Homo sapiens: one gene and its partners. The protein of the gene in region 5 purifies or fractionates together with the protein of the main gene of each other region. This does not show direct contact. Each region holds a gene or a part of one and is shown on either strand. Other genes may lie near its edges.

Region 1 (3,500 bases), on a different chromosome or scaffold from region 5:
ATAGTGAGGACGTCTTCGACATCGTCCTCATGACTAACAACCATGCTCAAGTGGGTGTCCGCCTCATCAACAGTATCAACCACTATGGTGAGCATGAGCATGAGGATGGGGGGTTTGCCCTGGGACACCCCTACCAGACCCCCCAGGGATGGGGCCACACCTCTGCAGGATGGAGTTGTACTGACCAGAACCCCAAGTCCAGTGTGTGCTGGTAAATTCGCTCTTTAAACAAACAAACAAAACCCTGACTTGTAGTGTTGCTAGTTTTCAGGTGTAAAATATTTCCACCAGGACTGGTTTCAAGCTGTCAGTGGTTGAACAACACAAATGGCTCACAAAATTTCTGAATGTTTAACTGTGGGCTCTTGCAAGCCAGTCCAAGCCAGCTCCAGCACACCCCACTCTCCGTGTGATTAGGTGAGACAGTTACTGCCTCCCTGCCTCAGTTTCTCTAACTGTGATGGGGCTAACAGGCCTCACAAGGCTGCTGGGAGAATCAGGTGCAGCTGTCAGAGTGAAAGGGCTTTGTGTCTTATTCTAAACTCAAGGTTAAAAATAATAGCCCCTCCAGAGCTAGCTTAAGCCCAGGAGAATTTTTTATTAGGTTACAGGGGTGTCTTTCAGAGGGCAGGAAATAAAATTGGGCCTACAAAGACCTGAATCCAAGTACTAGAAATCTCTCCCGGCTCTTCTTTTCTTCAGGCCACATGAACCTTTATTTGTGCTTCTCTAGCAAGTTTGCTCTTTTTTTTTTTCCTCTCTCCCCTGAAATTGGATTTCTCTGCTTTTCCTAAATAAAAACCGTATTCAAGAAAAGCAGGCCAGGTGCGGTGGCTCACTCCTGTAATCCCAGCACTTTGGGAGGCCAGGGCGGGTGGAACACTTGAGGTCCGGAGTTCAAAACCAGCCTAACATGGTAAAACCCTGTCTCTACTAAAAATACAAAAATTAGCCTGGTGTGGTGGCGCACACCTGTAATCCCAGCTATTCGGGAGGCTGAGGTATGAGAATCACTTGAACCCGGGAGGCAGAGGTTGCAATGAGCCGAGATCACCCCACTGCACTCCAGCCTGGTGACAGAGTGAGATGGAAAGGAGAGGAGAGGAGAGGAGAGGAGGAGAAATCCACTCTGGGGAGAGAGAGACAGAAAAATAATACACCTGGCCAGGCACGGTGGCTCACACCTGTGATCCCAGCACTTTGGGAGGCCGAGGCGGGGGATCACGAGGTCAGGAGATTGGATTGCTAACACCGTGAAACGGCGTCTCTACTAAAAATACAAAAAAATTTAGCCGGGCATGGTGGTGGGGCCTGTGGTCCCAGCTACTCGGGAGGCTGAGGCAGGAGAATGACGTGAACCCGGGAGGCGGAGCTTGCAGTGAGCCGAGATCACGCCACTGCACTCCAGCCTGGGCGACAGAGCAAGACTCTGTCTCAAAACGAAAAAAAAGAAAGAAAGAAAAAGAATACACCTATATTTATAGGTTTACCAGGCCTGGTTTTTAGCAACCAAGAGAGTCTAGTTGGCATTTTTAAATCCTAATTTCAAATTCTTGGGAGCAGGGTTGATCGTAAAAATATTTAACCACCTGTGTGACATACACACTGCGTAATCAGGACAGACTCTCCCTATAGTGCTGAAGCAGGGCCCTGAAGGACCCCTGCCGTACAAGGCATTACCGCCTTGTGTTGTGGACTCTGGAGAGGACAGAGGTCCTGGGTAAGGGGCTGCGAGAGTGACGGGTAACTTAATGGGCTCAGAGCAGCAGCCGTTTATCAACCAACAAATACTTTACAACTTTTGCAGTAATGGGGACCAGCGGATTGGCAGCCTAGGTAATCAGATTGGCCCAGCTTGGGCCAGATGTCTGCTCTTATCCAATCAGCTATGGCAGCTATGGCCAGGAGGCGGGGTCACACAGGCATGTAGCACTGTGATTCCTTGACAAGAGGATGTCCCTGTGAGCTGGGCAATTGCTCTAGAGATGTGATCGTCCTCATTTCATGAAGGATGGAGGGGCTCAGAGGGGAACACTGGCCTAAAATTACACTGAGACACGCTGTGCTGCCGTACCACACCCAGAACTAGGATGGTGTGCACTGGGCACAGAGAGACTGCCCTGAAGCCCAGGGTTGACCCTGGCCTCACCTGGGTCCTTTACCTCCTTCCCAGACCTGTTCATCGAGAGGTTCTGCATGACAGGTGGGAACAGCCCGATCTGCTACCTCAAGGCCTATCACACCAACCTCTACTTGTCAGCCGATGCGGAAAAAGTGCGAGAAGCCATTGATGAGGGTAAGTCTAAGTGAAGAGGAAGAATATGGGGAGTGCAGCAAAGGGGTCCCTGAGGTGGGAGGCCTGGTCCTGAAGTTCCGAGCAGGTGCTGGGAGTTGCCATGGTAACTAGAAGGCAAGGCTGAGCAATACTTTCCTTAATTCTTATAATCTGTCCTATAAATTCTGAAACCAAGGCCCTACCCATTCCATCTTCCTACATCTGGCCCTACTGTGTCATGGATGCTTTTACTTCTCAGCATCACCCAGCCTTCTGTTTCCATGGAAACCCTCTCTACAGCCCAGAAAGCTACTTTCTTCTATGATTCCTCCAAGTCAGAAGGAGTTCTGATTCCTGTAGGACCATAGGCAGCCTCTGCCCTGCCCTGGGCCAATGGGAAGGAGGATTCATATCTAGTCCAGCCTGAAAGCCTGAGTGGTGGGGTCTGGGGAATGGCCAGCATCTCCAGCAGCTGGGCTGGCCAGTGCTTAGGGGAGTTTAGGAGACCCAGATGCAAGTACTGACAAAGAGAATGTCCCTCTATGTGTGTCTTTCGAGGGGCAGTTTTGGGTGGTATCCATAGTCTCAGTCCTCCCAACGAGGTGCGTATCCTATTGCACATGAGATAAACAGGCCCATAGAGGAGCAAGGACTGGCCAGGTACCTGAGAGGGTTCCTTAGGCTGAACACTAGTGGCAAGTTTCTTTATCAACCAACAATATATTCACTTTTCTCTTCCTCTTTCATGTTGTCTCCTGCCTGGAAGCCTGGCCCCTCTCCCCCTGATAACTCACTCTCCTGAGCTGCTTGGGAGCTCCTAGAGGCTTTCTTTAACCAGGAACCAGGAGCCATTTCCCTAGACAGATGTCACACCCTCTGGTTGGGGCCTTGGCACTGGCATGTAGGTGTGCCTCTGTGTGTTTGTAACTTGACCTCAGGCTAGGGAGCAGGAGAATGGTCCACGGGGAGGCCCTGTTGAGGGTAGGGGTGGTTCTGGGTCATCTTGATTCCAGTGCTGGCAGAGCTGAGAGGGTACCTGGCTTGATGCCTGGCACTGGCCCTGCTTGTAGTATCCTCAGGCTAGTGAAGTTGTGTGCAGGTAGCACTGCTCACTCCTCCCAAAGCTCACCTAAGCCCAGCCTCTGTGATCCTCAGTTTTCAAAGAGTTGGGCTGAAGTGGTCTTTGAAGAGATGGAGACTAGGGAATGAGCTCGGCCAGTTGCCC
Region 2 (3,500 bases), on a different chromosome or scaffold from region 5:
GTGATCTGCCCACCTTGGCATCCCAAAATGCTGGGATTACAGGCATGAGCCACCACGCCTGGCCAATACTATGGTATTTTTTTTTTTCAAATAAAAACATGGTGAAGTTGCCAATGATTTCTGCATTCTAAAGCTGCCAGAAGGTTTACTTAGCTTCTTTGCAGTTCTAAGAATACTGGATGATACAGAAACACCTTCCAGGTTAGGCATTGTTCAGGATTTTTCTGATAACTAATGCTTACTCCTTTAAGCACCAATGCTTAAAATATTCTTCCACTTTGGATAGAAATATTTATTGTTTAAAAAAATTATGTTTATTACTTTTATTTTTTTATGGGACACTTCACAAATTTTTGTGTTATTCTCGTACAGGGGCCATATGAATATTCTCTGTATCGTTCCAATTTTAGTATATGGGCTGCTGAAGTGAGCACAAGATAGAAATATTTCTAAAATGTATGTCTTAATTTTCTCTCTTCTTAAATAAAAGGCACTGGAAACACTTTTATCTCTTTTTGGTAATTCATGCTGACCTGGGCATTATATGAATATTGTAATGAGGCAATATCTGACATCGTGGTTAAGCACATGCCTTCTCTAGTTTGGCAGACCTAGATTAGAATCTTGGCTTGGTCAATTACTGGCTGCATAACTCTGGGACAGTTACTTGACCTCTCTATGCTCCTTTTTCCTCATCTGTATAATGGAGACATTAATAGTATCTGCTGTATATGATTGTTTTAAGGATCAAATGAGATAATACATCCAAGGCACTTAATATAGCACTGCACATAAGGCATACACAATAGCTGTTTTCTGTGGTGTTATTACTCGGTAATGTTCTCTGCATTGTTGTGTGCAAAATTATTCTTGTAAGGTATATATAGGAGCCATATTGAGGCACTCCTAGAACCCAGAAAGAAGACTAATAAAATCAATACATAAGGAATGAGACCGAAAGCTGAGCTGGGGAGCACGAAGCAGCCAAGAAGACTCATCATCTTGTCTGAAGCTTCCAGGTAGCTGGAAGACAGACTTAAACATAAATATTTGCAAATGTCCCTGGATAGAGTCTCTCTCGGGCCCAAAGTGCCTGGCACAGTGCCTGGCATAGGACATACCTAATAGATTTTTGTTGACCCTATAAAACTGTAGATGTACAAAAAGCAAGAAGAGCAGGGCTTGACTGTTGCTTAGAACACAATATTATTTATCTAAAGAAAGCATACCGGCTTGAAATTGTCAGCTTGGAAATGCAGAAAAATGGAGCCGCAGATGCAGCACCGTACCGACAAATTGAGTACTGGGCTCTGGGGCATGGTGACGACATTAAAAAAGCTGTTGCCTTCTGGTCCTCTGGGTGGCCAGTCGGCTTCTCCAAGTAACCCCCATCTGTGTGTTCTCATATGGCTACAATGTCTTAGGGTCTTTAGAGGATCACACATTTAGTAACTGATCAGGAAAGTCTGCTGAGACATCTGGGAACAAAGTGCTCTCGGAAGCACCCCACCACCTTCTTGATAGTGTCCTTTGTAACACAATTTTTTTTGTTGTTGTTGTCTGTTTGTTTGAGACGGAGTCTTGCTCTGTCTCCCAGGCTGGAGTGCAGTGGCACAATCTTGGCTCACGGCAACTTTGGCCTCTTGGGTTCAAGTGATTCTCATGCCTCAGCCTCCCAAGTAGCTGGGATTACAGGTGCCTGCCACTATGCCTGGCTAATTTTTGTATTTTTAAGTAGAGACGGGGTTTTGCCATATTGTCCAGCCTCTCCTGGCCTCAAGTGATCCACCTGCCTCAGCCTCCCAAAAGGCTGGGATTACAGGCGTAAGCCACTGTGCCTGGCCCACAAAAATTTATTAATTAGACATTTTTGTTTTTTACTTTCAATTTTTGTGGGTACATAGCAGGTGTATATATTTGTGGGGTACATGAAATGTTGTGATACAGGCATGCAATGTGTAATAATCCCATCATGGAGAGTGGGGTATCCATACCCTCAAGCATTTATCCTTTGTGTTACAAACAATTCAATTACACTCTTTAAGTTATTTTAATAAGTACAATTATTATTGACTATAGTCACCCTGTTGTGCTATCAAATGGGCCTTATTCATTCTTTCAATTTTTTTTGTACCCATTAACCATTCCTGCCTCCTTCCCCAATATACTTCTCAGCCTCTGGTAACCTGTCTTCTACTCTCTATGCCCATTAGTTCAATTGTTTTTATTTTTAGATCCCACAAATAAGTGAGGACATGTGATGTTTGTCTTTCTGTACCTGGCTTATTTCACTTAACATAATGATCTCTAGTTCCATCCATGTTGTTGCAAATGACTGATTCTCATTCTTCTTTATGGCTGAATAGTACTCCATTGTGTATACATACCACATTTTCTTTATCCATTCATTTGTTGGTGGACAGTTAGGTTGCTTCCAAATCTTAGCTATTTGTGAACAGTACTGCAACAAACATAGGAGCGCCGTTATCTCTTCCATATACTGATTTCCTTTCTTTTGGGTAACATACCCAGCAGTGGGATTGCTGGATCATATGGTAGCTCAATTTTCAGTTTTTCGAGGCACCTCCAAACTGTCCATAATGGTTGTATTAATTTACGTTCCCACCAGCAGTGTATGAGGGTTCCCTTTTCTCCACATCCTCTCCAGCATTTGTTATTGCCTGTCCAAAAGTTTTTAATTTTGATGAAGTCAAATTCATCTCTTTTGTTGCTTGTGCTTTTGGTGTCATATCTAAGAAACTCATAATCAAATGTCTTGAAGAATTTTTTTCCTGTTTTCTCCTAAGAATAATATAGTTTTACTTCTTACATTAAGGTCTTTGATCTATTTTGAGTTAATTTTTGTATATGGTAGGAGGTACGGGTCCAAATTCATTCTTTTGCATATGCACATCCAGTTGTTTCAGTAACATTTGTTGAAAAGACAACATTAGCCAATTCCTCCATTGAACTGATTAATGTAGCTACGTAGTAAGTTTTAAAAGCGGGTCCTTCAACTTTGTTCTTCATTTTCAAAATCACTTTGGCCATTCTGGATCCCTCGCATGTCCATATGAATTTTAGGATCAGCTTGTCAATTTCTACAAAAAAGGCCAGCTGAGATTTTGATAGTGATTGTGTTCAATCTATAGATTGCTTTGGAGAGTGTTGCCATCTTAATAATATTAAATGTTTGAATCCATGAACATGGGATGTATTTCCACTTATTTGTCTTATGGGATGTATTTCCACTTATTTGTCTTTAGTTTCATTCAGCAATATTATGTACTTTTCAGTGTACATGTCTTATACCTGCTTGGTTCAATTTATTCCAAAGGATTTTATTATTTTTGGTGTTATAAAAAAATAGGATTGTTTTCTTGATTTGGTATTTAAATTGTTCACTGCAAGTGTATAGAAATATAATTATTTTTTTGAGACAAGGTCTTACTCTGTTGCCCAGGCTGGAGTGCAGTGGTGTGATTACAGCTCACTGCAGT
Region 3 (4,196 bases), on a different chromosome or scaffold from region 5:
ATGATTACCTGTAATCTGTTAAGTAAATGGTGGATAAGCTGGCTCACTTTGCTGACAAGATGATTCTGATTAAGAGGTACCAGTCGGCAAGCCTGGACAAGAAGAGCACTAACGTCCTACCAAAAAAAAAAAGATAAGAGGTAAAATACTTATTAGTCAAGTGAAGATCCTCAAAACACAGCCAAATGGGAAAATAAAAGTAAATATTCACATTCAAAATGGGGAAAGAAAATGTGAGGCAGGAAGGAAAAAAATGAAGTGATAGCACAAAAACAGCATGTGCTAAAAAAGAAGGAAAAAGCCAGGCACAGTGGCTCACACCTAATCCCAGTTCTTCCGGAGGTCAAAGCGGGAGGACTGCTTGAGCCCAGGAGTCCAAGACCAGCTTGGGCAACATAGTGAGACTCCATCTCTACAGAAAAAACTTTTTTAAAAAAATTAGCTGGATATGGTGGTATGTAGTCCCAGCTTCTTGGGAGGCTGAGGTGGGAGGATGGCTTGAGCCCAGGAGTTTTAGGTCACAGTGAGCTATGATCTTGCTGCTGCACTCCAGTCTGGATGACAGAGTGAGACCTTGTCTCTTAAAAAAAAGAAAAAAGAAAAAAAAAGGAAAAGAATCAGTACGGTTTTGGTCAGGCTGAAGACTCTGTGCTCTCTATATGTAAAGACAGTATAATTAAATAACCAGAAAAAGGCTTCTAGGGTATGAAAGCACAAACTGAAGCTAAAAATATCAAAAGGTAAGTGAACCAGATTTTCAATGCCATTGGGAAAAATCAGACCTAACACTTCTATGGATTTTATGCATAATTAGGGAATTCTTAAAAAAAAAAAAAAAAAAAGAGGGACCTATTTGCAAGTCACACTCTTCATCCATCGATGTTTATAGAATGACAAGGTTCTGAGCACCTACTATGTGTCATAGTGTGCTAGGTCTTTGGGCTCCAAAGGTAAAACAAACATGTTCCTGAACCTCAAAGAGCTCACAAACTAGTGAGAGAGAAAGAAACACAACAAATAATTAAAATAAGGTGAATCAAGTGCTGAAAGAATAAAGTACAAACTCTGTCCAGAAACAGTAATTAGGGAGGCCTTGTGGAGGTGACTGTAAAGCAGAATCTGGAATGATTTGAAGGATGAGGAGAAATTTGCCAGATAGGGCATCAAAAAACACTGCAAGCAAAGTGGACAGAGTATGCAAAAACCTGGAGGTGTGAAACACTAGTAGGTGCCTGAAGAACAGCAAGTTTTAAATGGCTGCACACAGGAACAAAAGGGGGAGTAACAGGAGAGAATGGAAGTTTTGTTGCAAAAGTATCCAATTACACAAATACAGCAAAAGTCCCCGACTACTGCCTTAATCTCACTCTGCTTCCTAATGACATACACTATTATTCTGTAGTCAATTCTTTCAGACCTTTTACTTTGCATATATAAACACACATATTTTAAAATCCCTCCTCCAGCTTCATACTGATCTCATTCTGTATGAATTGTCCTGCAACTTGCTTCAACCATTTACCAATACGTATTGAAGACTTTTCCAAAGCAGATTTTAAAGTTTATGAACAATTTTTTTTCCTCCTAAAGAAAAGATCATTCTGGCATTGGAGGAATGACTGGCTTGGAGAGGAGCTAGACAGGAGGCAGGAGATCAGTCAGAGGGGATCAGCGAACAGTCCAGGCATAAGTCGCCTTGCCTGAGGTCTAAGGCACTCGCTATGGGAATAGACAGGAGGGGATGAACTGAGAAATATATATGAGACACATTCTGAAATACCTGAGTTGGTCAGGATCTGGGATGAAGGAGGGAAGAACCAGTGTTTGTGTCTGGTGTGACTTGGTGGATGATGCATGTGTGTTGGAAGGTGGGATGGACTGGGGACGGGAATGCGTGTTTGGAGCTAATGAATTTCATCTTTAGGAACTGTCTAGTTTGAGATGCCTGTGCAAGCAGGCAACTTGCACCACTTCCCTCTTTCCTACGTAGGGCCAGAAGGCCATGGTGTCAACAGTTCAGAGAATTCATTAATTTAAGGCCTGATGTGTGTAAGATTACTCAGAAAGACGGCAGAGGGGAGGAGCTAGTGTGTAGGAACAGAAAACATAGGGGCTTTGTGGCAGAGTTTTGTATACTGTATTTTTACGAGCTTCAGTATTTTCATTAGCAAACAAGCCCTAATACTACGCAAGTTCTAAGATTCCCACGTGGTCCGTGTACCATGTACGCAATAAACAGTAGTAATGCATTTTGTCAACCAAGTGTTCTGGGTGCACAGAGAGGGAGTGAAGGAGGGTGCGGGCGGATGGAAAGTTGGTATCAGAGAGGAAACCCGAGGCATTATCAGAGCAGGAGTCGTCAAGTTGGGTTTTGAATGACTCGAGCGTGCCAAGCACTGCAGGGTCTTCCAAATGGAGAACTAAGAATGTGCCAAGGTTGGAGGGGGCACGCCATCCTGAAACTAAATCATCAGGCGCGAGAGTGGGAAGATCAGGGAAAGGCAGGCAGAGGCCACCAGCTGGGTTCCCGGAGGGGTGGGGCCGGGGCCGGGGCCAGCAGGGCGCGCCGCCTACCTCCGGGGCCACGCCACTGCCCTCGCTGTAGTTCTCGGAGATGAGCTGATCGAAGAGCAGGTGGATCTCGGTGCGGGCGGAGCTGCTGTCATCCGGGCGCAGGGCGCAGAGCCTGGCAGACAAGAGGCGAAACCCATTGCCTCGCTCAGGGATTGCTTCCCGCGGTGCCTCCCGCGGCTGCACGGAAGGCCACGAACCGACAACTTGCACAGCAGCCATCTTTTCTACGGGCGGGGGGGGTGGGTGGGGTGATCCCAGGGAAATACTTCCGGGACATCCTCCCGTTCCGCGCGCTCTAGTTCCGAAAGTACCTTTTTTAGACCGGACTGGGGCTCAGAGGGGTTTCCATGACTACGGGACTCCTCCGACCGGTACCCTGCAGATGCTTGTCAGAAATTGGCTTGGAGGCCGGGCTCGGTGGCTGACGCCTGTAATCCCAGCACTTTGGGAGGCCGAGGCGGGCGGATCACGAGGTCAGAAGATCGAGACCATCCTAGCTAACACGGTGAAACCCCGTCTCTACTAAAAATACAAAAAAAAAAAAAAAAAAAAAATTAGCCGGGAGTGGTGGCGGGCGCCTGTTGTCCCAGCTACTCGGGAGGCTGAGGCAGGAGAATGGCGTGAACCCGGGAGGCAGGGCTTGCAATGAGCCAAGATCGCGCCACTGCACTCCAGCCTGGGCGACAGAGCGAGACTCCGTCTCAGAAAAAAAAAAAAAGAAAGAAATTGGCTTGGAGATTTTTCGCCGGCCACTCCTTCTTGAGCCCTGACTGAAAAGTGAGTTCTCAATTTGTGCTTCCAGAAAGTTTGTCCTCCCAGAGTTTGTTCCTGGACAGGGCTGAAGGTACTCTGTTCCGTACTAGAGTTTCAGATTCGGGCTGGAGTTGGAGAGGGTATGCTGTGGATGGCAGTAGCAGAAACCGCTAGTTCTAAGGCACCCTTCTACTCTTCTAAAATCTTTCCCCAGGCACAAAACCACCCGGAATAAAGGCTACGTTCCCTAGCATTCCTTGCAGTTGGCTGTGGCTCTGTGATTGCAATCTGGTCAGTGGAATATAAGGCAGCTTTCCCTACTTAAGTGACAGCTGGCTGTACTCTTGGTTCCTTTTTCTCCCTTTTTCCCAGTGTGAATCCTCTCATGGATCATGAGGCACCTCGCCCCACTAGAAGAGTAATTTTGGAGTTTAACTGAATCATGTAAAATATAATCTGCCTAAGAGTGACCGGGTTGAAATGAGACACCCCAAGATTTTCTGAAACCTTGAAGTCAAGAAGCTGGAGAATAAAATGGCCATTTAAAAATCTGTGATCACTTTTCAGTCATCCAGGAAGTGAAGGCTTGACTTTCACAGTTGGGCAGATTGGGAAAACCATCTCTAGGGCCTTTGAGTTATGCAAATATAAAGCAAATCCTCACCCTTGGCCCTTAGGGAAAACCTTGAAGTCACCTGAATGTATGTTTTATCCTGAGAACAAAACATTTCTGTTCAGCAGTGAAAATTGGGGGTATGCTTTAGCAGAGGTAGTTTTCTGAAGACTTTGGGCTTGGGGAGAAATGTTAATTTTTTTGTTTGGATTTAGATTCCGTTGTGCTGGTATATTATTTCTTATTCCTAGTCTGT
Region 4 (3,500 bases), on a different chromosome or scaffold from region 5:
TTAGGGGACTCAAGAAATAATAGTTCAGTTGAAGACCAAAAACACCTGGCTTTATTGGTTATGGAGACCTTGACAGTGCTTCTTCAAGGATCAAACACAAATGCAGGTAATTTAAAAAGCTGCAAGCAAATACTTTGGGAGATTACCACTGATTACATCTTCTGTGGTTATTCTTGCTTCTGAAATCTTCCTGTCACTTTAGAGAAAAAACTATTGATTCAGTGATGGTACCCGTCATGTCCCTAAAAATGCAGTGCTTTTGACCATCAGGAGCACCTTGATGACAAAACATATAAGATTGTTACTATTTCAAAATGATGTTTAAATTGCTTTTTATAGTGTCTTGTGTTGAAAGTATTCTTCTAATTTTTTATTGATACACTCTTACTCAAATAAGTTGCTATTTAAATTCTTTCTAAAATATTTTCTTTACACAGTGATTTAAAGAATATTTTTAGTACTACAAGTTAGAGTATTATAATGTTACAACCTTCAGGAAATACTGAACAATGATTCTCTAATAAAACGTAATCTCTCCAAGGTTAATTAACTTTACTAAATATTTTGTTTAATTTTGGTCTCAATTTCTCTTTTATACTTTTCTACCTGTCATTAACAGATAACCTAACTATATTTATAAAATATCACTCTTGCTTTTTAAAAAAGATTACTTGAGATTTTAATTAACATCAAACAACTCTCAGGTAATAAGTTCAGTACAACTTGAGAGGAATAATGAGTTCAGATTAGTAGGCTGGGCTCAAATCATAGGGAGCTTTTTAGGCCATGGTAAGGAGCTTGAAATATATTTTAAGTGTTATGGAAAGCCATGGATGAATGAACCCCATGCCCAAATGCATGACTGTTTGCCTGAATGCAGGGAAACTCAGCATTCATCATATTTAAAATATATTGTGTATCCCAGGTACCATGCTAGCTAGGTGTTAGATTATTCTAACACCTAGATGCTAAGGTAAGATCATTCTTGCTCCCTGGGAATTAGAATCTAGTGAAGAAAAATGTAGACACATAATTATAGAAGTAATTAGTCTGATACAAATTTGGCAAATGCTAAGATAGACTTGAATGAATTTAACAGGTAATTGAAACAATGAGTATGATGAATTTTAGTGGATACTATAGTAACATTTTGTCTATGGCATAATGCATAATCTTATTTCCACTAACTAGGTTTAGTTAACTGAGATAATCAGAAACATAATGAAGATAGACTAACAGGAATTTGCTTAGCAAATTAGCTTTCCTTGAGACGACCTAGAAGTTGCACAGGAAGAGATTGGACAATTGGAGAGCTTACTCTGCACGACTAAAAGTCACTTAGTACATATCCCAAAGTGCCAAACAATTTCATACAATTCTTTTCAGTTTTTCTTTTCCCAGTATGAAAGATGTTACTAGCTGTGTGATGTTAGGCATTTAAAACAGTACTTTACTCATAGTTTAAGTATTTAAATAATATTAGCCATTATGATTATCTAGTGGGTCCTAACTGACAACCAGGAGGTAACTAAACAGGCCTTCAGGTAATGAAAGGATGTCACAAATTCCATGTGCTGAATCTCAAGCACATGGCTTAGACTGACTTCATGATCTTATAATTTTTATAAAGTTAACAAATAGAAAGCCACTAAGCAGAGAGGACAGTGGCTGCTATAGCAGAATACACTGTTTTAGTAAACGTTTATTGAAACACAAATCAGGAGAAAATCCAGTAGTCATGGAAGACCAAACATAAGCAATAATAGTAAGACTGTTTGTTATAAACCATAATAGAGATATAAACAAGATGCCCTAAAAACGTAAGGGATAGAAGAATTACTTAGAGGAAATACTAATTAGTGATTTCAGTCACTGGGCCCATTTTTTTAATACTGGAGGATGATATTAATATTTGATGTGAGAACAGTATCACTTGTGAGCAGGAGCACAGGCTTACAGAGCTGGGCTATGTAGGCATACATCCTTTTCTGTTGCTTACTAGCTGTATGACTTTGACCGCCTTACCTCTATATGGTAGGGGATGAGTATTAAGTAAGTCAATCTGTGTAAAGGCTTTGGAGCAGTAACAATGACACATACTTCTGTTACAGAATTTGTCACTTTTTGTTCTTATGCTCTACCTGTGCAACAAAACATGTTGGTTCCTTGTAATTTTTCCCATGGTGGAATAATTTATTCCATTCCTTTCTTGCTACTATTTTGGAAGCCATGTTCATTTAAATCTCCTTTATTTAGGCTATTGTTCCTCTGAAAGCCTTTTACATAAGTTGATTACAATAGAGAGTCTCCTAGGGTCTGCCTAAGAGACTTGTGAATGTTCTAGATTTTGAGAGCTTGGACATGGTGAACATATCACGGCATTAATCTTGCATTAAGGAAATGTAGAGAAAATTTGCATATACCTTTGCTGACAACCCACTGTGCAAATTTGTATTGTAATTTAAAAGGTGAAATAGTTGGGTAGGTTTTATTTACATTATTATGAGTTACTTTACCTACAAAAAATAACTGAATGTTAATTCATCTGACTTGTCTCAGAATATTTTAAAGTAGCCATTGTTGGACTTTTTCTCCTTCCTTCAAGGAATTTTTCGAGAATTTGGAGGTGCAAGATGTGCACATAATATAGTAAAGTACCCTCAATGCCGGCAGCATGCCTTGATGACTATCCAACAGCTGGTGCTCTCCCCAAATGGGGACGATGACATGGGCACTCTCCTGGGGCTAATGCATTCAGCCCCACCGACGGAATTGCAGTTGAAGACTGATATTTTAAGGGTAAGTTTGATAAATGTGTTTCCCTTCTTTTACTACTAAAATCTGTGGTTATTTTTAGATGATCTGTATTTAAGTTAGAGACAGGGAAATTAAAAAAAATCCAAATTACCCAAGAAACCTCACAACTTTGTACACGTTAGGAACTTGGAAAAACTCCAGTCATTTATGTCTTTCAGTATATATTTTACTTCTGCTGATAAACCTTTTCAGTAATTATCTTGACTTACTGGAACTCTTAAATTAAATATTAGTGAAGTATAGGATCTTAATTAATACTAAATATATGTATTTTCTGATCAGTTAAATTCACTCATAGTGTTATGCATCTGTGAAATGAATGTTAGATTTGGCATTTTATACACATGCATGCATATATGTATGTATGTAAGTAATGGATATTCTAGTAGATATCAAACAATATACCAGGAGTTATACATATGCTTTTATCATTTACTCCTTAGTAATACTATAAATTAAGTAGCACCCTGTTTTGCAGATGAGAAAACTTAGGTTTAGAGAAATCATATAACATGGATTTTGTTCACTTAAGTGACTTTTAATTAGTAGAACCGACCCCCAGATTTCAATACCCGTTTTATTTCCACAGCACCATTGTTTTATACAGATTTATACACTCACATTCTCCCATATTACTGGTTATTGATATTATAAGAAATGATATGTAAGAAATTTTTAGAATC
Region 5 (2,998 bases):
GCCTTGGCCTCCCAAAGTGCTGGGATTACAGGCGTGAGCCACCATGTCTGGCCTGGCCAGGCTGGTCTTGAACTCCTGACTTCCGGTGATCCATCTGTTCTGGCCTCCCAAAGTGCTGGGATTACAGGCATAAGCCACCACGCCATGCCGAAGCCCAGCTTGTTTTTAATTTTTTTTTTTTTTTTTGGAGAAATGAGGTCTTGCAATGTTGCCCAAGCTAGCCTTGAACTCCTGGCCTCAAATGACCCCGCCTTGGCATCCCAAAGTACTGGGATTACAGATGTGAGCCACCATGCCCCAGCCTTGCTTTCTTGAGATACGATTTAGAATACCATAAGATTCATCCCTTTTAAGCACATAATTCAATGACTTCTGTACAAACAACCATGACTACAATCTAATTTTAAAATATTTCAATCACTCTAAAAAAGAAACCTCCTGCTTATGTACAGCGACTCTGTCTACCTCTTAAGTGAATTCTCCTACCTTTAATAGCCCTATTTTACAGTTCAGGAAACTGAGGTTCAGAGAGACAAAGTCACTTACCCACAGCAAAGAAGCAAGGCTGGGTATCAAATGCAGGACCCCCCCGGTCCTGATGCTTTTTTTTTTTTTTTTTTTTTCCTCTGAGAGAGACTCTCACTCTGTCACTCAGTCTAGAGTACAGTGGCGCGATCTCAGTTCACTGCAATCTCTGCCTCCTGGGCTGAAGTAATCCTTTCCTCACAAGTAAACCTCAGCCTCTCAAGTAGCTGGGACTACAGGCACACAACACCACGCCTGGCTAATTTTTGTATTTTTAGGTAGAGACGGGGTTTCACTATATTGGCCAGGCTGGTCTTGAACTCCTGACCTCAGGTGATCCGCCTGCCTCGGCCCCCCAAAGTGTTGGGATTACAGGCGTGAGCCACCACACGCAGCCTTTTTGTTATTAGACTCTGTCATTACTGACTTTTTTTTTTTTTTAATAGAAACAGGGTCTTTCTTTCCCAGGCTAAAGTACAGTGGCATGATCACAGTTCACTATAGCCTTAAACTCCTGGGCTCAAGTGATCCTCCTGCCTCAGCCTCCCAAGTAGCAGGGACTACAGGTGTGCACCACCACACCCAGTTAACCATTCATTCATTCATTCATTCATTTATTTTGAGATGGAGTCTCGCTCTGTCACCTAGGCTGGAGTGCAGTGGCACGATCTCAGCTCACTGCAACCTCCACCTCCCAGGTTCAAGAGATTCTCCTGCCTCAGCCTCCCGAGTAGCTGAGACTACAGGCGTGCACCACCATGCCAGACTAATTTTTGTATTTTTAATAGAGACGGGGTTTCACTCTGTTGGTCAGGCTTATCTCGAACTCCTGACTTCGTGGATCCACCCTCCTTGGCCTCCCAAAGTGCTGGGATTAAAGGCGTGAGCCACCGCGCCCTGCCAACCTTTTTTTAATTTTTCTTAGAGATGGGGGTCTCCCTATGTTGCCCAGGCTTGTCTTGAACTCCTGGCCTCAAGTGACCCTCTTGCCTTGGCCTCACAAAGTGCTAGGATTACAGCCTGAGCCATCACACCTGGCCAACAGGTTTTTTTTTTTGTTTTGTTTTGTTTTTTAAAGAATGTCTAGGCCAGGCTCATTTACTTTCACCTGTAATCCCAGCACTTTGGGAGGCCGGGGTGGGCAGATCACTTGAGGTCAGGAATTCGAGACCAGCCTGGGCAACATGCTGAAACCCCGTTTCTACTAAAAATACAAAAATTAGCTGGGTGTGGTGACACGTGCCTGTAATCCCAGCTACTCAGGAGGTTGAGGCAGGAGAATTGCTTGAACCCAGGAGGCAGAGGTTGCAGTGAGCCAAGATCATGCCATCACCCTCCAGCCTGGGCGACAGAAGGAGACTCAGTCTAAAAACTTAATTAATTAATTAATTAAAAATAAAAATACAAAAATTAACCTGGTGTGGTGGTGTGTGCCTGTAATCTAAGCTACTCAGGAGGCTGAGGCAGGAGAATCCCCTGAATCCCAGAGGCAGAGGTTGCAGTGAGCCAAGATCGAGCCACTGTTTGCCCAGTCTAGTGCACTGGGCTGCTGAATTTATTTGACCAGACACCTAGCAATAGACTTTGAAGTTCTTTTCCACTTTTCACTCTAAGATGCTGCTGTCATGAATAAGGAATATTTTGATCCCCTTCACAAACACTCGGGGCCCTCTTACCAGTTTTCACTGAAGATCTTGACATTCCTATCTGCTTAGGTGTCTGGGCGTGTTTGGGGGAGATACTGAAGAGGTAGGGCTCCCAGGCAGGTGCAGTTCGTCTGTTAGGCAGGCAGCAAGGTCCACTTCACCAGACACCCCCACCTCTGTTTTCCTGCAGGGACTCCAGAACGGGTGGAACTGGCACCCCTCCCCTCTTGGCAGCCAGTGGGCAAGAACCTTACCCTACGCTGCCAGGTGGAGGGTGGGGCACCCCGGGCCAACCTCACCGTGGTGCTGCTCCGTGGGGAGAAGGAGCTGAAACGGGAGCCAGCTGTGGGGGAGCCCGCTGAGGTCACGACCACGGTGCTGGTGAGGAGAGATCACCATGGAGCCAATTTCTCGTGCCGCACTGAACTGGACCTGCGGCCCCAAGGGCTGGAGCTGTTTGAGAACACCTCGGCCCCCTACCAGCTCCAGACCTTTGGTGAGGATTGAAGAAGCCAGCAGGGAGAAGGTGGGGGTGGGGTATCCTGCAATGCGGTGCCTGTGGCCACAGGATCTTTTGAGATGGGTGTGGCCCCGGCTAAGGGGTGCATGTGTTCTAGGCGTATGTGACCTAGGCTGCTGAGTGGCCCTGGAAGAGGATCTCGCAGGAGGGGGAATGAAATGCCCCAGAGAAGGGCTTCGGGACGTCCATCCCTGTCTGCTCACACCTTTCTTCTCTCCCTAGTCCTGCCAGCGACTCCCCCACAACTTGTCAGCCCCCGGGTCCTAGAGGTGGACACGCAGGGGACCGTGGTCTGTTCCCTGGACGG
Region 6 (3,500 bases), on a different chromosome or scaffold from region 5:
GAGCAAAAAGTATTCAAGGGATGCTGTGCTGTTTACTCTTCTCTCTGTTTTCTTCTTCCACACAAACATGCATCTGGGCCTTTGTATTCCCTTTTGTAGTCCTGGCACTACTGGGCCAACCTCCCTTTTCTGTACCCTTTTTTATATGGCTCACACATCTCCCAGTGTCCTTATTTCCCACTAGGAAAGAAGGGAATAATCCATGTTTATTGAAAGATAAGAGTTAGTCTTCTGGAGGGACTGCTGGAAGCTCCTCAGAGAAAAAGAGAAACATGCATAACTTTTAAGCCTCCTTCGATAAAAACTGTCTAATTATTTGGCTTCCTCCTCCCTCCTTTCCCAGGCATTCTCTTCATACCATGCCTTTGGGACCCCACGGGTTACAAGCACACTCACTTTGCTCAGGACCATAGTCTTGGCAGTGAGTGACTTCATATTTGATTACAGAAAGCAAAGTGTCCCATGGCTTTCCAAAGTACAGAGCTTTTTTTTTTTTTTTTGAGACAGAGTCTTGCTCTGTCACCCAGGCTGGAGAGCAGTGGCACGATCTTGCTCACTGCAACTTCCGCCTCCTTGGCTCAAGCGATCCTCCTGCCTCAGCTTCCCAAGTAGCTGGGATTACAGGTGCATGCCACCATGCCCAGCTAATTTTTTTGTATTTTTAGTAGAGACAGAGTTTCACCATGTTGGCCAGGCTGGTCTCGAACTCCTGATCTCAAGTGATCTACCCGCCTCAGCCTCTCAAAGTGCTGAGATTACAGGCGTGAGCCACCGTGCTTGGCCAAAGTTTTTGACAGCGTTTAATGTAATCATGATTCAATAACACTTTCTTCCCGAGCACCGTGACCCCATTTGTCAATGTGCTTCGCTTTTCATTTCCTCTAGTTCAGAAGTGCTGTGCTTGTATTTCAAACTAAAATGTGCTTGCCTTATATTGCTGTCTTTGTCAAAAATACAAATATCTGCCCTGAGGCCATTTCTACTTCAAAGATGCAATATGGTGCTTGGTACAATTTGGGAAATTTCTTTTTTTTTTCTTTCTTTGTTTAAAATTTACAAATCCATTCAACAACACATATAATGATCTGATTTCCTTTTTTTTTTTTTTAAGACCATGAGAGAATGATGCAGAGATTTTAATCATTAGCTCATTCTTTTGGTTTAAAACCATAATTGGTCTAGAGAATTTATATTTCATAAATTGTTCAATCCTATATTAAAATTCAAGATGCTTTTATTTATCATCTTGAATTGTACGAATTAAACCCATGCCTTTTTCTCTTGTTTTCTCCTCTTGATCCATGTAAGCAACCCCAGCCCCTGACCTTCCTGAAGTCTGGTCTTGTCTCCTGGGCCTCCAGCCTCACTCCTGCCCTCACACAGGCACACATACAATTCAGGGATTATGACATATTATGCACGAAAACCTTTTTGAGGAAAGATACCAATGTGAAGTTGTGAATATGGACTCCTGTTAGAGGAGGAGGGCTTCCTCATTAATCCGGGTGTGCTCGCTTTTCTATCGTGTGGAGGACTTCCCCAAATAGTTCATAATGAGTGAGCTTTTGAGAGATGGCCTTAGGAAAGATTCCTTCTCTGTGTAGCAGGAGGAAAGGGTGAATCGTATTTCTCAAAAATGAAACCATAAACAACAAAATATAAAACTCTTCACTGGCTGGGCGCGGTGGCTCACGCCTGTAATCCCAACACTTTGGGAGGCCAAGGCGGGTGGATCAGTCAGGAGTTCAAGACCAGCCTGACCAACATGGTGAAACCCCATCTCTACTAAAAATACAAAAATTAGCCGGGTGTGGTGGTGCAAACCTGTAATCCCAGCTACTCGAGAGGCTGAGGCAGGAGAATTGCTTGAAGCCGGGAGGCGGAGAAGCCAGGAGGCGGAGGTTGCAGTGAGCCGAGATTGCACCACTGCACTCCAGCCTGAGCGACAGAGCGAGACTCCATCTCAAAAAAAAAACTTCAGTGTGGTTCTCAGTCACTGTGATATTAACAGACACACAGTTTATTAGTATGCATGATACATGTGACGGCTGTGGACATTGCTTTTTTCTCTTTCTGAAATCTGTGTGACCAGATAGGTTGTTGCCCCTTCATATTTACAAGTTAAATAACTCCATATATGTTGGAATTTTTGTTATTAAATGGTTTGTGATTCTAATTGCTCACAAAGGTAGAAGTCAGGATTTCCAATGAAGGCATTTTTGGATACTATAAACCATTTTCTTGAAATGTAATGGTTTAATTTAAAATGTAGGCAGTCTTTTTTTTTTTTTAGACGGAATCTCGCTTTTATCCCCTAGGCTGGAGTGCAGTGGCACAATCTTGGCTCACTGCAACCTCTGCCTCCCGGGTTCAAGCGATTCTCCTGCTTCAGCCTCCTGAGTAGCTGGGATTACAGGCATGCGCCACAATGCCCAGCTAATTTTTTTGTATTTTTAGTAGAGACGGGATTTCACCATGTCGTTCAGGCTGGTCTCAAACTCCTGACCTCAGGTGATCCGCCCGCTTTGGCCTCCCAAAGTGCTGGGATTACAGGCGTGAGCCACTGCGCCCGGCCGACAGTTTTAATTATAATAGTTTTGAAACTAGACTTGTTACAAAGGTGAAGTGCATAAGTTGCTTATGACAATCTATTCAGAAGCCAACTTCATGGTTTAAAAAATGGGGAAAGGGCTGGACACCGTGGCTCACACCTGTAACCCCAGCACTTTGGAGGCTGAGGCAAGAGATTCACTTGAATCCAGGAGTTCAACACAAGGCTGGGCGACATAGTGGGACTCCTCTACAAAAAAATATTTAAAAATCAGCCAGGCATGGCGGTGCATGCCTGAAGTTCCAGCTACTTGAGAGACTCCAATTCTAATTTTAAGGAATTTTTTCAGTCCTTTATTTTTCACTTCTGTGGCCTTTTGCATGGAAATCCTTTCTCTTTCTAGAAATTGGGACGATGAAACACATGAGAAGTAAATGACTGACGTGAGGAGGGGTGAATTATGTTTCTGTACTGTTGTGTGGCCTCACCTGACCAAGAGTGTATGTTGCCATATTTCATACCTGGAGACTTTTCATCAGATTGAACTTTTAGGAAGCAATGAGAGTCCTGCTTTATAACCATGTGCCCTCTGGTGGTGTGGGATGCACGGCTGACTGCAGCCCTAGCCCCTTCATGAAGGGAATGTAAACAGAATCTGTTCTAGCACTTGAGTCCTCTTTGCCTCCGAATCATTTTTACTGTCATTGAATAACTTCTTCAATATTCTTGCAGTTATATTCCCTGCTCAGAGAGGATACACGTAGCTGTTACAGAAATGGCAGCATTATTCCCCAAAGTAAGTCACTTCCTACTCACTTGGTTTAAATCCTTTTAAATGAACAGCAAGAAATTTCTTTATGACCTATATATTACATTAGCTTTTTTGTAGCACATGCAGTTTTAAAATATGCAGTCGAGGCCGGGTGTGGTGGCTCACGCCTGTAACCCC
Region 7 (3,500 bases), on a different chromosome or scaffold from region 5:
TGTCTGGATGTGTCTTCCCTCAGATATCCAGCGACTTGCTCCCACACCTCACTTTGGATGAATCCACAAGTCTTTCCTTAAATGTCACCTCAGTGAAGAGAGCACTGGATTGAGAAGTGCAGACCCCCATCTCACTTCCCTGCTTTGTTTCTCTCCAGAAGCATTTCCCACCATCTAGCATCCCACATATTTATTTACTTGTTTCCCTCACCACTAAAATAAACATTCTATGAGGGCAGGGATTTTGGGTTTTTTTTTGTTTACCTCTATAATTCCAGCCTCTGAAACAGTGCCTGGCGATGAATAGATGCTTAATAACTTAAGGAATAAATGAATTATTTTATTGTGGGATTTCTTTGAATGTCTCATGATTCTGACTGTTCATTTCTGTTTTGTTTTTTGTTATTTTAAGTTCCCAGCGTGGGTCTTGTTGGGTGGTGGCCATTACTATAGGGTGGCTGGTATATATGGATTTTGTGTGTATGTTTGTACAAATGTATATGTTTGCTAATATTTCTTTAGCTGACAGTGCATTGGTTGCTGGGACAAGGATGGAGGCTTGGAGAACCTTTTAGTATGCATCTTTTGACATAATCTGTATTTTCAGTTCTTCATTGCTCCTGCTGATGTATTTTACTCCAGACCCATTTCAGATTTCGGTTCATTTTTCTTTAAACCTCTGGATTTGGGGGTGGAGAAAATAGATGAAAATAGGAGGTGAGGAAGAGAATTTGCGCATTAGTTAAATAGACTTTATGCCAATCCGTATTTTCAGATCTGCATTTAAAGCTTGCTTTCCATCTCCAAAAATTCATTGAAAAATTGAATGCTTATCTCCTGCACCTCACATTCTTGGTTTTATACCTTGAAAAAAGAAAAACTCCTCTGTTGCCATTTTAATAGCGTACTTTGAAAAAGATTAAGAAGTAAACACGTAAGGACAGAAGTTATCATGTTTTATATTCTTAGTGTCATGGAATGCAGCACAGGAATATCACATAAGGAAAAGCACAGATTTCTTGTTTTCCTCGTTTATTTTGGAAGCTTATCCTTCAGCTCTTGTTTATCTTTTTTTTTTTTTTTTTTTTTTTTTTTTTTTTTTTTTTTTGAGAGTCTCTCTCTGTTGCCCAGACTGGAGTGGGCATGATCATGACTCACTGCAGCCTCGACCTCCTGGGTTCAAGCAATCCTCCCACCTCAGCCTCCCAAGTAGCTGGGACCATAGGCATATGCCACCACATCTGGCTAAGTTTTTTATTTTTGTAGAGACAGGGTCTCCCTATTGTTTATATGCCTTAAGAGTCAAATTAACAGAGTACATAAGAAACACTCTCTTTTTAGCTCTCTTGCTAAGGAGCAGGTTTGAGATCTGTTGCCAGAACTTAGTACTTCGCAGTTTTATGGATTCCTCAGGAGTCTCGTCCATGGGGCTGGGGCGTGGCTACCCTCTGCTGACTCTTCCTAGGTTCCTGCTCTTCCCCAGCACCTCCCTACCCCCAGCCACTAGAAATAGACTGCTTCTTTCTTTCTTCTACTGCAGAAAACATGCACTACTGTACTTATTAAAATTAACTTAAAAAAAAAAAAAAAGCAGCTCGAGCTGCTTGAGTTTTTTTTTTAAGTTAATTTTAATAAGACATTGAAGGAAGAATTTTTTTTAAAGGGGGGGCTTATATGTATGGAGATTTATGGTGTGAAAGCAGGGGCAAACTCTAATGAATGAAGTTTTTAGAATTGATATGAACATGAACCCAAGATACTCAGACTTATTCCGAGAGTTCCTCTTAAAAACTGCTTTTCTCCACATAAATCCGAATGTCAGCAGTGGTTAGCTCCACGTTGGAGGAAGGGGGGCTTCATTTTGCTCTTTCTGCATATTTCCTGCAGTGATCTGTTACTTTCAAATCTGGGGGAAAGGTGCTCTCTTTTTCTGAATGAAGTCTCCACCTGCCTCCCTTGGGCCCAGGCTGCCCAGCTTTCTGGCTGCTCCCTGAGAGTCCTCCTTGGTCTTCCACTGACCTCCTTCACTTCCTTATGAAAGTATGTTTTTAGTCTCCCTAACCTGCTTTCTGTTTTCTCTCTCTCTCTTTTTTTTTTAATACCCTCAATTGTTTTCACTGGCCACTTTTTTTTTAAGACTGATGCTTGGCTGGGCTTGGTGGCCCATGCCTGTAATCCCAACACTTTGGGAGGCCAGGGCAAGAGGATTGCTTGACAAGGCCAGGAGTTCAAGATCAGCCTGGTCAACATAGCAAGAGCCCATCTCTACAACAAAATTTAAAAATTAGCCAGGTGTGGTGGTGCGCACCTGTAGTCCCAGCTGCTTAGGAGGCTGAGATAGGAGGATCCCTTGAGCCCCAGAGTTTGATGCTGCAGTGAACCATGATCTTGCCGTCCTGGGGAACAGAGCAAGACTGTCTCAAACAAAAAAGACTGATGCTACCTGCTTGGCAAAACCATGTTTTTAGAGCTATTTCTCCTAAGAAACCTGGTCTTTGTAGTTGTTCTGATGGCTTCTGTGACAAATAATGCCTTTTTTTTTTTAAGAGCTTTCAGATTCTTATTTCAGATCTAAACAGTGCTTTTCAGCTCTCAGTTCATCTTCAGATCAAAGAGAATAGTAGGCCGGGCGCAGTGGCTCATGCCTGTAATCCCACCACTTTGAGAGGCCAAGGCATGTGGATCGCTTGAGGCCAGGAGTTTGAAACCAGCCTGGCCAACATAGTGAAACCCTGTCTTTACTAAAAATACAAAAATTAGCCAAACATGGTGGCGTGGGCCTGTAATCCCAGCTACTTGGGAGCCTGAGGCAGGAGAATAGCTTGAACCCGGGAGGCAGAGGCTGCAGTGAGCTGAGATCAAGCCACTGCACTCCAGCCTGGGTGACAGAGTAAGACTCCATCTCAAAGAAAAACAATATTAATTTTTGGCTAATTTTTATTAGGAAAAAGAGAATATCCTGAAAAGAATATCATGCTAGTTTAAGGTTACAGATTTACTTTCTTCCCTGGGTTCCCTTTGGTTCATATTCTCTTGTTTAGAAATGATCCAAATACATTATTCTGAAGTATATGACAGTTTTTCCAAAATCAGTAAATACATATGTTGGTGCTTAAAACAGAAAGAAAGAAATAATGGCCTATAAATATTATCACATAGCTTATTTCTACTATTCAGAGATCTGTATAACTTAGGATAAGGAGCAGGTTGTTGAACGGTTTTTTGGTTTTTAAGTTTGAAGTACAGTCTGAAAGTACCTTTCAATATTGAAGGGCTGCCTGACTGAAACTTACATGGCTATCTCCTGGGCCTGAAGCACCACCGAGATCTGAACTGAAGGTAGCGTTTTGGGAGTCCTTAGCGTTTAGTTGGTATTTTAATATCTAGGGGTGAATGGGGTGGGAAGGGAAGGGAGTATGTAAAGGGAATAGACTGGAGAGCCCTGCGGATCCTCAGCATTTAGGAAACAGGGAAGACCTCCCACTAGAGGGGAGGGAGGA

What was found.
Region 1: the proteins of ICAM1 (region 5) and NT5C1A purify together in Homo sapiens (affinity purification with mass spectrometry; 2 studies listed by BioGRID and IntAct, with this or other methods). This does not show direct contact.
Region 2: the proteins of ICAM1 (region 5) and ARHGEF6 purify together in Homo sapiens (affinity purification with mass spectrometry; 2 studies listed by BioGRID and IntAct, with this or other methods). This does not show direct contact.
Region 3: the proteins of ICAM1 (region 5) and HEATR6 purify together in Homo sapiens (affinity purification with mass spectrometry; 2 studies listed by BioGRID and IntAct, with this or other methods). This does not show direct contact.
Region 4: the proteins of ICAM1 (region 5) and WDFY3 purify together in Homo sapiens (affinity purification with mass spectrometry; 2 studies listed by BioGRID and IntAct, with this or other methods). This does not show direct contact.
Region 6: the proteins of ICAM1 (region 5) and GIT2 purify together in Homo sapiens (affinity purification with mass spectrometry; 2 studies listed by BioGRID and IntAct, with this or other methods). This does not show direct contact.
Region 7: the proteins of ICAM1 (region 5) and FAM118B purify together in Homo sapiens (affinity purification with mass spectrometry; 2 studies listed by BioGRID and IntAct, with this or other methods). This does not show direct contact.

The regions. Positions count from the first base shown.
Region 1 is NC_000001.11:39,662,108-39,665,607, reverse strand, and holds part of NT5C1A (cytosolic 5'-nucleotidase 1A), read left to right. Parts: coding exon 1-87; intron 88-2,173; coding exon 2,174-2,296; intron 2,297-3,500.
Region 2 is NC_000023.11:136,770,933-136,774,432, reverse strand, and holds part of ARHGEF6 (rho guanine nucleotide exchange factor 6), read left to right. Parts: intron 1-3,500. UniProt on the Homo sapiens protein: Acts as a RAC1 guanine nucleotide exchange factor (GEF).
Region 3 is NC_000017.11:60,076,122-60,080,317, forward strand, and holds the start of HEATR6 (HEAT repeat-containing protein 6), read right to left. Parts: upstream 2,801-4,196; 5' UTR 2,794-2,800; coding exon 2,575-2,793; intron 117-2,574; coding exon 9-116; intron 1-8. UniProt on the Homo sapiens protein: Amplification-dependent oncogene.
Region 4 is NC_000004.12:84,816,691-84,820,190, reverse strand, and holds part of WDFY3 (WD repeat and FYVE domain-containing protein 3), read left to right. Parts: intron 1-4; coding exon 5-106; intron 107-2,605; coding exon 2,606-2,799; intron 2,800-3,500. UniProt on the Homo sapiens protein: Required for selective macroautophagy (aggrephagy). Acts as an adapter protein by linking specific proteins destined for degradation to the core autophagic machinery members, such as the ATG5-ATG12-ATG16L E3-like ligase, SQSTM1 and LC3.
Region 5 is NC_000019.10:10,281,120-10,284,117, forward strand, and holds part of ICAM1 (intercellular adhesion molecule 1 precursor), read left to right. Parts: intron 1-2,201; exon of another isoform or gene 2,202-2,331; intron 2,332-2,361; coding exon 2,362-2,667; intron 2,668-2,913; coding exon 2,914-2,998. UniProt on the Homo sapiens protein: ICAM proteins are ligands for the leukocyte adhesion protein LFA-1 (integrin alpha-L/beta-2).
Region 6 is NC_000012.12:109,933,869-109,937,368, reverse strand, and holds part of GIT2 (ARF GTPase-activating protein GIT2), read left to right. Parts: intron 1-3,283; coding exon 3,284-3,347; intron 3,348-3,500. UniProt on the Homo sapiens protein: GTPase-activating protein for ADP ribosylation factor family members, including ARF1.
Region 7 is NC_000011.10:126,218,282-126,221,781, forward strand, and holds part of FAM118B (protein FAM118B), read left to right. Parts: intron 1-3,500. UniProt on the Homo sapiens protein: May play a role in Cajal bodies formation.